Homo sapiens: one gene and its partners. The protein of the gene in region 2 purifies or fractionates together with the protein of the main gene of each other region. This does not show direct contact. Each region holds a gene or a part of one and is shown on either strand. Other genes may lie near its edges.

The links.
Region 1: the proteins of METTL5 (region 2) and USP28 purify together in Homo sapiens (affinity purification with mass spectrometry, with the first as the bait; one study listed by BioGRID). This does not show direct contact.
Region 3: the proteins of METTL5 (region 2) and USP37 purify together in Homo sapiens (affinity purification with mass spectrometry, with the first as the bait; one study listed by BioGRID). This does not show direct contact.

Annotation. Positions count from the first base shown.
Region 1 is NC_000011.10:113,869,072-113,872,725, forward strand, and holds part of USP28 (ubiquitin carboxyl-terminal hydrolase 28), read right to left. Parts: intron 1-3,654. UniProt on the Homo sapiens protein: Deubiquitinase involved in DNA damage response checkpoint and MYC proto-oncogene stability. Involved in DNA damage induced apoptosis by specifically deubiquitinating proteins of the DNA damage pathway such as CLSPN.
Region 2 is NC_000002.12:169,814,752-169,818,405, reverse strand, and holds part of METTL5 (rRNA N(6)-adenosine-methyltransferase METTL5), read left to right. Parts: intron 1-2,027; exon of another isoform or gene 2,028-2,127; intron 2,128-2,877; coding exon 2,878-2,929; intron 2,930-3,654. UniProt on the Homo sapiens protein: Catalytic subunit of a heterodimer with TRMT112, which specifically methylates the 6th position of adenine in position 1832 of 18S rRNA.
Region 3 is NC_000002.12:218,495,289-218,498,942, reverse strand, and holds part of USP37 (ubiquitin carboxyl-terminal hydrolase 37), read left to right. Parts: intron 1-785; coding exon 786-917; intron 918-1,085; coding exon 1,086-1,209; intron 1,210-2,992; coding exon 2,993-3,183; intron 3,184-3,654. UniProt on the Homo sapiens protein: Deubiquitinase that plays a role in different processes including cell cycle regulation, DNA replication or DNA damage response.

The DNA of each region.
Region 1 (3,654 bases), on a different chromosome or scaffold from region 2:
ACTTGGTTCATAAGTTTGAGACCAGCCTGGGCAACACAGAGAGACCCCATTGCTAAAAAAACTTTTAAAATTAACCACAGGCTGGGTTCGGTGGCTCACGCCTATAATCCCAGCACTTTGGGAGGCCAAGGCAGACGGATCACCGGAGGTCAGGTGTTCAAGACCAGCCTGGCCAACATGGTGAAACCCCGTCTCTACTAAAAATACAAAAATTAGGCGTGGTGGCATGTGCCTGTAATCCCAGCTACTTGGGAGGCAGAGGCAGAAGAATCAATAGAACCCGGAAGGCGGGGGTTACAGTGAGCTGATCTCACGCCACTGTACTCCATCCTGGGCAACAGACTGCGGTCCGTCTCAAAAAATAAAATAAAACAAAAGTAGCCAGGTGTGGTGGTGCATACCTGTGGTCCCAGCTACTCAAGTGTCTGAGGATTGCTTGGGTCTGGGTGGTCAAGGCTGCAGTGAGCCTTGACGGTGTCACCACACTCCAGCTTGGGTGACAGAGTGAAACCCTATCTCAAAAAACAAACAAGACATCTCAGTTTCCTCATCAGTAATAGGGTAATAGTTCACACCTTGCTGGGTTTTTGTAAATAAAAATGTATGGAAAAGTGCTTAGGGTGGTACATAGCATATGGCAGACACGAGTAATACAAGTGTACATTCCCATGCCTAGTATAACAACCCTGGGAAAATAAGTATGAAGCAAACGTTTATAGCCAAGGAGGTTGATATTCAAGCAGACCTGTTCAAAAAGCACTGGGAAACAGAGTATAGAAGTCATTTGCAACTCAGGATTAGAAATGTAGATTTGGAGCCAGGTGTTCACGCCTGTAATCCCAGCACTTTGGGAGGCTGAGGTGGGCAGATCACCTGGGGTCAGGAGTTCAAGACCAACCTGACAAACATGGAGAAACCCTGTCTCTACTAAAAATACAAAATTAGCTGGGCATGGTGGTGCATGCCTGTAATCCCAGCCACTCGGGAGGCTGAGGCAGGAGAATCACTTGAACCCAGGAGGCGGAGGATGCAGTGAGCCAAGATCGTGCCAATGCACTCCACCCTGGGCAACAAGAGCGAAACTCCGTCTCAAAAAACAAAACAAGAAAAAAGTAACAGCAAAAAAGTGGTAATGAGGGATCATAAAAGCATAAAATAATAAAAGTATGAGGGGGCCAGGTGTGGTGGCTCATGCCTGTAATCCCAACACTTTGGGAGGCCAAGGCAGGAGGACTGCTTGAGCCCAGGAGTTCAAGACCAGCCTGGGCAACATAGCAAGACCTCGTCTCTATAAAAAATTAAAAAAACAGCCAAGTGCGGTGATGCACGCCTGTGGTCCCAGCTACTCAGGAGGCTGAGGTGGGAGGATCGCTTGAGCCTAGGAGGTCAAGGCCAAAGTGAGCTATAATCACATCGCTGCACCCCAGTCTGGGTGACAGAGGGAGAGATCCTGCCTTGGCAAAGTAGGCTGCTGAGCAGATTCTGATTACATAAAACCACTCACTGCCTTTCAACCTAACCTGCTGCTGCCTAGTCAGTCCCTCTGCAGGCCTCTGAACAATCAGCCATTTGCTGGAGCCCAGACTGGTCCACACGGCCATCTCATTATTTGGCTTTTGCAGAAGCTGTTATTGCCACCTTAAGCTCTGTAGCAGAATCTGGGAACCAACCTTCCTCAATCTCCTGTCAGCTAAGAGTTAGTCTTGCTCAAGTCTGTCTTTTCCAAGTTTTGTATATTGAGTCTGAATACATTGTCACTGGAAAAATGTTTTAGAAATGAAACAGGTGGGGTTAGAAACTTTGTTCCAAAAGCAAACAAGAGGAGGAAGGTGGAGACAACAGCTGGACTGGGCAATAGACACTTTTGTTGTTGTTATTTGGTTTCAAGATAGAGGACAAGTGCACGGTAAAATGGAAAATGCAAATTCAAAATGTAATATGCAAATGAATCACCCAAGAATCTTGTCAAAAGGCAGAAACTGATTGAATAGGTCTAGAGTGGGGGTACAGGCAGTGGTATGCTGATTGGCAGTGTATGCTTGTTTCCTTGGTATAAATATTCCCACCTTGGCACAGTTATCAACACGAGGTCATTGAACACAGAGCTGGAAAGAGATGTACAAAATCAGCTGGAGAGGCAGAGCAAGCTGGCTCTAGCACACTCAACTTTCTGCATGTCTAAATCCTAGGGGATGTGAATGCTGCTGGTCTGTGGACCATAATGTGAGTAGCAAGGGAGAAGACAGTGAAGGTGTCTGGGGGTTAGACTAGGACTAAGGAGAAGGGACATAATAGAAAGAGAAGAGAGACATCATCTAGATCAGAGTTTGTCAAGCTCAGCACTATTTTATACAATTTACACATAACTCTGTTTAGAGGGGCTTACTCCTGTACACTGCAGGATGTTTAGCAGCATTCCCGGCTTCTACGCACTACATTCCAGTAGCATCCTCCCTCCAGAGTCACAATCAAAGTCTCCAGACATTGCCAAATGCTTCCTAGATTACAAAATCTCTCCCTAGTAAAAACCATTAATCTAGGTTTATCTCTAAGAAATGAAAGGGGGAAAAAGGAAGGGAACCTTTTCCACTGAAATAAGAGAAAAGAGATGAGATGGCGTAGGGAGAGGGGGACAAAACAGAAGGCAGGGAGCTCTTTTTAGACATCAGCGAGCTCAGTCAAGTAGAAAAGAAGATTATCTATTTAGAAAGACTGTAGGGAGGACTGGAAGTTTAAAACATTAGGAGAGTTCTAGAAAAGGCATTATAAGAGTAGTGGAAAGTCTGTGATCCAGGGCAATGGGCCCATCAACTATGAGATAGGACCAGGGGCGCCTTGGGCTCTTGGGGTCAGAACTGCCTAGATACAATTCCAACTGTACCATATCCTCACTGGGTGACCTTGGACGAATTACTTAACAAGTATAAGCCTTCTCATAGAAACTTCATGGAGTTGTGTAAGTACTGAGAGAATGCTATGTTAAGTTCTGAGCACCGAGTCTGGCACATAGTGCATGCTCAATTAGCATTAGCTATTACTATTACCAGCATTATTTTCCTTGTTAAGTACTTGCTTCATTTTACTATTGATTTAATTTCTTTGATGAAACAGAACACATGGAGAGATCTCGCCTGGTAAGATGCTATTTGCCAGTAAGTCTTAAAAATACTGTTTGCAGACCGAGGCGGGCGGATCATGAGGTCAGGAGATCGAGACCATCCTGGCGAACACTGTGAAACCCCGTCTCTACTAAAAATACAGAAACATCAGCCGGGCGTGGTGGTGGGCACCTGTAGTCCCAGCTACTCAGGAGGCTGAGGCTGGAGAATGGCATGAACCCGGGGGGCGGAGCTTGCAGTGAGCAGAGATCGCGCCACTGCACTTCAGCCTGGGCAACAGAGCGAGACTCCGTCTCAAAAAAAAAAAAAAATACTGTTTGCATTTGGGGGCAGAGGGGCATGAGAGTTGTGGAACCAATCACTGACTTACTGATGTTTTAAAAATCAGTTAATGAGACAAAAGGAAACGAAAGGTCAATAAATCAAGAGAAAGCAAAAAGGGCATTAAATTTTCACTGAAACTGGCAGGTTTTTATAAGGCTTCAGCTGACATAAAGAATGTGTGATGTGAACCCTCAGTACAGCTGCCAAGAAT
Region 2 (3,654 bases):
GTCTTATTCATGGCTATGATGTATTACAGTGAAAGGATATAGAGCAAAATCAGCAAGGAGAAAGGTGCATTAGGCAGAGAATGGGGTAAACCAGGGCCAGGCTTCTGGAGTCTTCTGCCAGTAGAATAACACAGGACACAATTAATTTTCCCAGCATGAATTATTGATAACACATGTGAAACATTGCCAACCAGGGAAGCTCATTAGAGACTCAGTGCCCAGGGCTTTTATTAGGGACTGATCATGTAGGCAATTCCCTTTCTGACACATACCCAAATTCTAGACTCCCAGTAGGAAAACAGGTGTTCAGCATAAACAGTGTTAGGCACAGTCAGTCACTATTATTAAGGGAGTAGGGAGTGGGAGGCTTCCCAAAATCTAAGTTCCCAGTCTCCAGACAAGGGCCAAACTAAGCAGGCCTTTCTAAGGATAAGCAGCCAGGCCTGCTGTGAACTCTTTTCTGCACAGCTTGGCATAACATGAATTTTTTTTTTAATTATACTTTAAGTTCTAGGGTACATGTGCACAACATGCAGGTTACATACGTAGACATGTGCCATGTTGGTTTGCTGCACCCATCAACTTGTCATTTACATTAGGTATTTCTCCTAATGCTATCTCTCCGCCAGCCCCCCACCCCCCAACAGGCCCCCGTGTGTTATGTTCCCCTCCCTGTGTCCATGTGTTCTCGTTGTTCAACTCCCACTTATGAGTGAGAACATGCGGTGTTTGGTTTTCTGTCCTTGTGATAGTTTGCTGAGAATGATGGTTTCCAGCTTCATCCCATGAACTCATCCTTTTTTATGGCTGCATAGTATTCCATGGTGTATATGTGCCACATTTTCTTTATCCAGTCTATTATCGATGGACATTTGAGTTGGTTCCAAGTCTTTGCTATTGTGAATAGTGCCGCAGTAAACATACATGTGCATGTGTCTTTATAGCAGCATGATTTATAACCCTTTGGGTATATACCCAGTCATGGGATGGCTGGGTCAAATGGTATTTCTAGTTCTAGATCGTTGAAGAATCTCCACACTGTCTTCCACAATGGTTGAACTAATTTACACTCCTAACAGTGTAAAAGCATTCCTATTTCTCCACATCCTCTCCAGCATCTGTTGTTTCCTGACTTTTTAATGATTGCCATTCTAACTGGTATGAGATGGTATCTCATTGTGGTTTTGATTTGCATTTCTCTGATGACCACTGATGATGAGCATTTTTTCATATGTCTGTTGGCTGCATAAATGTCTTCTTTTGGGAAGTGTCTGTTCATATCTTTTGCCCACTTTTTTGATGGGTTTTTTTTTCTTGTAAATTTGTTTCAGTTGTTTATAGATTCTGGATATTAGCCCTTTGTCAGATGGATAGATTGCAAAAATGTTCTCCCATTCTGTAGGCTGCCTGTTCACTTTCATGATAGTTTCTTTTGCTGTGCAGAAGCTCTTTAGTTTAATTAGATCCCATTTATCAATTTTGGCTTTGTTGCCATTGCTTTTGGTGTTTTGGTCATGAAATCTTTGCCCATGCCTATGTCCTGAATGGTATTGCCTAGGTTTTCTTCTAGAGTTTTTAGGTCTTACATTTAGATTTTTAATCCATCTTGAGTTAATTTTCATGTAAGGTGTAAGGAACGGATCCAGTTTCAGTTTTCTGCATATGGCTAGCCAGTTTTCCCAGCACCATTTATTAAATAGGGAATCCTTTTCCCATTGCTTGTTTTTGTCAGGTTTGTCAAAGATCAGATGGTTGTAGATGTGTGGTGTTATTTCTGAGGCCTCTGTTCTGTTCCATTGGTCTATATATCTGTTTTGGTACCAGTACCATGCTATTTTGGTTACTGTAGCTTTGTAGTATAGTTTGAAGTCAGGTAGCATGGTGCTTCCAGCTTTGTTCTTTTTGCTTAGGATTGTCTTGGCTATGTGGGCTCTTTTGGTTCCATATGAAATTTAAAGTAGTTTTTTCCAATTCTGTGAAGAAAGTCAGTGGTCGCTTGATGGTGATAGCATTGAATCTATAAATTACCTTGGGTAGTATGGCCATTTTCATGATACAGTGCTCTACACTTTCGGAGAAACTTCTCTAGTAACGAACTATAGAAATGATCCCTGAAAGTATAGTCTTGGCATAACATGAATTTTATAAAACTCAGTTTTACTGCATGAACTGAATTCCCCATGTACCTATATCTCTGCCAAATGGTTTCTAGGCTAGCTAGCTGTATATATCAATGAAATAATGCTACAGAAACCATATGAGAACATTACACATCTTTGATAGATTTCTGAAATAGTCATGCATCCTTTAACAACAGGGATATGTTCTGACTAATGCATTCTGAGGTGATTTCATCATTGTGCAAACATAGAGTGGACCACCGAGGCTCTGTGGTTATAGTCTGTTGTTCCTAGGCTACAAACCTGTCAACCTATTACTGTATTGAATACTACAGGCAATTGTAACACAATGGTATTCTTTTGATCTAAACATATATAAACACCAAGAAGGTAATGTGTTGTGCTGTGATGTCAAGATAGCTACATCATTAGGCAATAGCAATTTTTCAGCTCCATTTATAATTTTATGGGACTACCAAAATATATGCAGTCCCTAGATAACCCCAAATGGCATTATGTGGTGCATGAGTAGCTTTCTATCACTTGGATTTATTGTGTGATTTGGTTCAGATTGTTAAATGTATTGAAATTGATTTATTATTTTCAGAATACTATCCATTCAATTGAAATTTTTATAAGGGTCTAGATTCTAATGAAATTTTAAGCTTAAAAACTCAATCTCAAGTATTAGTAAAAAGCAATTTTAAAAAATCATTATTTAAAAATCAGCTCATAACAACATATTATTTATGTTCAGCATGTTCAAAAGAAAGCTGCAGAATGGAAAATCAAGATAGATATTATAGCAGGTAAGACAAATCTCAATCCTAATATCCAAAAGGGCCAACATGTATTCGCCCAACCAAAATTTTCATGCAGGTGCTGAGAAGATAAACTATGCTTTACAGTGTGGCAAAATGTGCATGATTGGTAATAGATTGGAAATGGAGTAAAAGCAGAATGAACACTTAGCCTGAGACTGTCCTAATTTATGCGATTTACTGAAAATTTCTAATAGCACTCAGGTATTTGGTCACTCCAGACTCAGGCAGAACACTGTATAGCAGCACAATGGCTAAAAACATGGGCTGGGGGCCAGGTGTGGTGGCTCACGCCTGTAATCCTAGCACTTTGGGAGGCCAAGGTGGGCAGATCACCTGAGGTTTGGAGCTCAAGACCAGCCTGGCCAACATGGTGAAACCCCATCTCTACTAAAAATATAAAAAATTAGCCAGGCATGGTGGCGCACACGTGTAATCTCAGCTACTTGGGAGACTGAGGCGGGAGAATCGCTTGAGTCCCAGAGGCAGAGGTTGCAGTGAGCCGAGATCGCACCACTGTTCTTCAGCCTGGATGACAGAGGAGACTCAGTCTCAAAAAAACAAAAACAAACAAATGAAAAAAAAAAGTGGGCCGGGCGCGGTAGCTCACGCCTGTAATCCCAGCACTTTGGGAGGCTGAGGCAGGCGGATCACGAGGTCAGGAAATTGAGACTATCCTGGCTAACATGGTGAAACCCCGTCTCTACTAAAAA
Region 3 (3,654 bases), about 49 Mb from region 2:
CTAAACACATATATTCTATGACCCAGTAATTCCTTTTCTGAGCATTCATTTTCAGAGAAATGAATAAGTTATATTTAAATGAAAAAATAAATTATAAGTAAGAATGAAAAGCACTTTAGTTAAGCCCCCAGTCATGTTTAGCATTAATTTTGAAAATGTATACTTTTCCATTAGATCAAACTAAGTTATTATTTATTTATTTATTTTATTTATTTTGAGACAGAGTCTCACTCTGTTGCTGAGGCTGGAGTGCAATGGCACAATCTTGGCTCACTGCAACCTCTGCCTCCTGGGTTCAAGCGATTCTCGTGCCTCAGCCTGCAAGTAGCTGCGATTACAGGCGCATACCACCATGCCTGGCTAATTTTTGTGTTTTTAGTAGAGACAGTGTTCCACTATATTGGCCAGGCTGGTCTCAAACTACTGACCTCAAGTGATCTGCCTGCCTCGGCCTCCCAAAGTGCTTGGATTACAGGCATGAGCCACTGCGCCTGGCCTATTATTATAATGTCATAATGCAGTAGTTCTCAAAGTAGAGTCCCCAGACCAGCAGCATCAACGTGATCTAGTAACTTGTTAGAAATGGACATTTTTGTGCCTTCTTTTTTTGGACACATTTGTGTCCAAACCTACTGAATCAGAAACCTTGGGGTTAGGGTGTAGTAATATGTAGTTTAACAAGCCCTCCAGGTGATTCTGAAACATAAAGTGGAGAACTCCTACTATACTGAACATACTTTAGGAATTCCTGTTGCCTTCTAAAGCACTATTTCTTTAATTTTCAGCTTCTCCAATTTGGGAAATACCTGCTATATGAATGCTATTCTACAATCTCTATTTTCACTCCAGTCATTTGCAAATGACTTGCTTAAACAAGGTATCCCATGGAAGAAAATTCCACTCAATGCACTTATCAGGTAATCATTATGTACTGTACTTACTGAGTAACCTTTTACTTCATTGATTATAGAATAATGGAATTTTAGACACTCAAAAATTTTCTGTGCCATTATTAGTAATTATTCTTTAAAATATCACGCCATGTCATGTAAAACGTGCTAACTTTGTGTTTTTTGTTTTACTAGACGCTTTGCACACTTGCTTGTTAAAAAAGATATCTGTAATTCAGAGACCAAAAAGGATTTACTCAAGAAGGTTAAAAATGCCATTTCAGCTACAGCAGAGAGATTCTCTGGTTATATGCAGAATGTGAGTATTAATTGTTTTAAAACGTTTCAGAGGCCTGACACGGTGGCTCACGTCTGTAATTCCAGCACTTTGGGAGGCCTAGGTGGGCAGGTCACCTGAGGTCACTGAGGTCAGGAGTTTGAGACCAGCCTGGCCAACATGGCGAAACCCTGTGTCTACTAAAAATACAAAAATTAGCCAGGCGTGGTGGCATGCGCCTGTAATCCCAGCTTCTCGGGAGCCTGAGGCAGGAGAATTGCTTGAACCCGGGAGGCAGAGGTTGTAGTGAGCCAAGATCATACCACTGCACTATAGCCTGGGTGACAGAGCAAGACTCCATCTCAAAAAATAAATAAATAAATATTTATAAAAATAAATAAAATAGGCCAGGTGCGGTGGCTCACGCCTATAATCCCAGCACTTTGGGAGGCCACGGTGGGTGGATCATGAGGTCAGGAGTTTGAGACCAGCCTGGCCAACATGGTGAAACCCTGTCTCTACTAAAGATTAAAAAAAATTAGCCGGGCATGGTGGCACATGCCTGTAATCCCAGCTACTCAGGAAGCTGAGGCCGGAGAATCTCTTGAACCTGGGAGGCAGAGGTTGCAGTGAGCTGAGATCGCACCATTGCACTCCAACCTGGGCTACAGGGCAAGACTCTGTCTCAAAAAAATAAAAATAAAACAAATAAATAACGTGTAAGAAATCATGGAAATTGACATGATTTTAGTGTGTTTCTTGATTTTTATTTTAAAACGAGATTTGTGTATGTGTGTTCATTATAGATTGAAAAACCTGAGGAGAGGCTGGGTGCGGTAGCTCATGCCTGTAATCCCAGCACTTTGAGAGGCCGAGGCGGGTGGATCATCTGAGGTCAGGAGTTCCAGACCAGCCTGACTGATGAGGTGAAACCCCATCTCTACTAAAAATACAAAAAAATTAGCCAGGCGTGATGTCGCATGTCTGTAATCCCAGCTACTTGGGAGGCTGATGCAGGATAATCGGTTGAACCCTGGAGGCAGAGGTTGCAGTGAGCCGAGATTGTGCCATTGTACTCCAGCCTGTGTGACAAGAGCGAAAATCTGTCTCAAAGAAAGAAAGAAAGAAAGAAAAACCTAAGGAGCTGTAGTAAGATTAAATGTGACTCTTCAAATATAGATTTGATTTACCAGTGCAAGGACCTGGGCTGTGTTACCTGCGAAAATTACCTCTTTTAACAAAGTGAGGAGTTATTCATTGATTCATGTCAGTGCAACTGATATAATTATTAAGAATATATAATCTGTCATTTGTTTTTATTCACAAAATATGCAGCTCCCCAAATTCTTATAAGAATAAACCTGACATTGTTCACATATGTCATTGACTTTCAAGGGTTTTCACTGTATAAATTATAATGTTAATAAGCTATTATTTTTTGTTTGTTTTGTTTTTTGTTGTTGGTTTTTTTTTCTTTTCTTTTGAGACGGAATCTTGCTCTGTCACCCAAACTGGAATATAATGGTGCGATCTTGGCTCACTGTAACCTCTGCCTCCCAGGTTCAAGAAATTTTTCTGCCTCAGCCTCCCAAGTAGCTGGGATTACAGGGACTGCCACCACACCTGGCTAATTTTTGTATTTTTAATAAAGATGGCATTTCACCATGTTGGCCGGGCTGGTCTCGAACTCCTGACCTCAAGTGATCCGCCTGCCTCAGCCTTCCAGAGTGCTGGAATTACAGGTATGAGGCACAACACCCAGCCTCAGTAAGCTATTGTGACAAGAAATGTTTTTATCTGATTAAGGATATTGTTGTCTTATTAGGATGCTCATGAATTTTTAAGTCAGTGTTTGGACCAGCTGAAAGAAGATATGGAAAAATTAAATAAAACTTGGAAGACTGAACCTGTTTCTGGAGAAGAAAATTCACCAGATATTTCAGCTACCAGAGCATACACTTGCCCTGTTATTACTAATTTGGAGTTTGAGGTTCAGCACTCCATCATTTGTAAAGCGTAAGTAGTGTCTAAGAAATGATTTCCCTTTTTACTTCTTTATGGCAAGTGATTAAAATTCTTCTATGACATACCAAATGCCATGAATTCTTTTCTGTTTTTAAGACAGGGTCTCACACAGTTGCCTAGGCTCTTGGGTGCAGTGGCACAACCCCAGCTTATTGCAGCCTGGATCTCCTGGGATCAAGTGATCCTCCTACCTCAGCCTCCCGAGTAATGAATTTTTATCTCATCTTCCTTTCTACGTCATAGGGGAAATATAAACCAACAGATTATATCAAACCTTTTTTTCAGAGTCTTTTTCTATAGAAATGCTTGGGCTGGGCACAGTGGCTCATGCCTGTAATCCCAACAATTTGGGAGGATGAGGTGGGCAGATGGTTTGAGCCCAGGAGTTCAAGACCAGCCTGGGCAACATGGGGAAACCCCATCTCTACAAAATATATAAAAATTAGGCAGGTGTGGTGATGC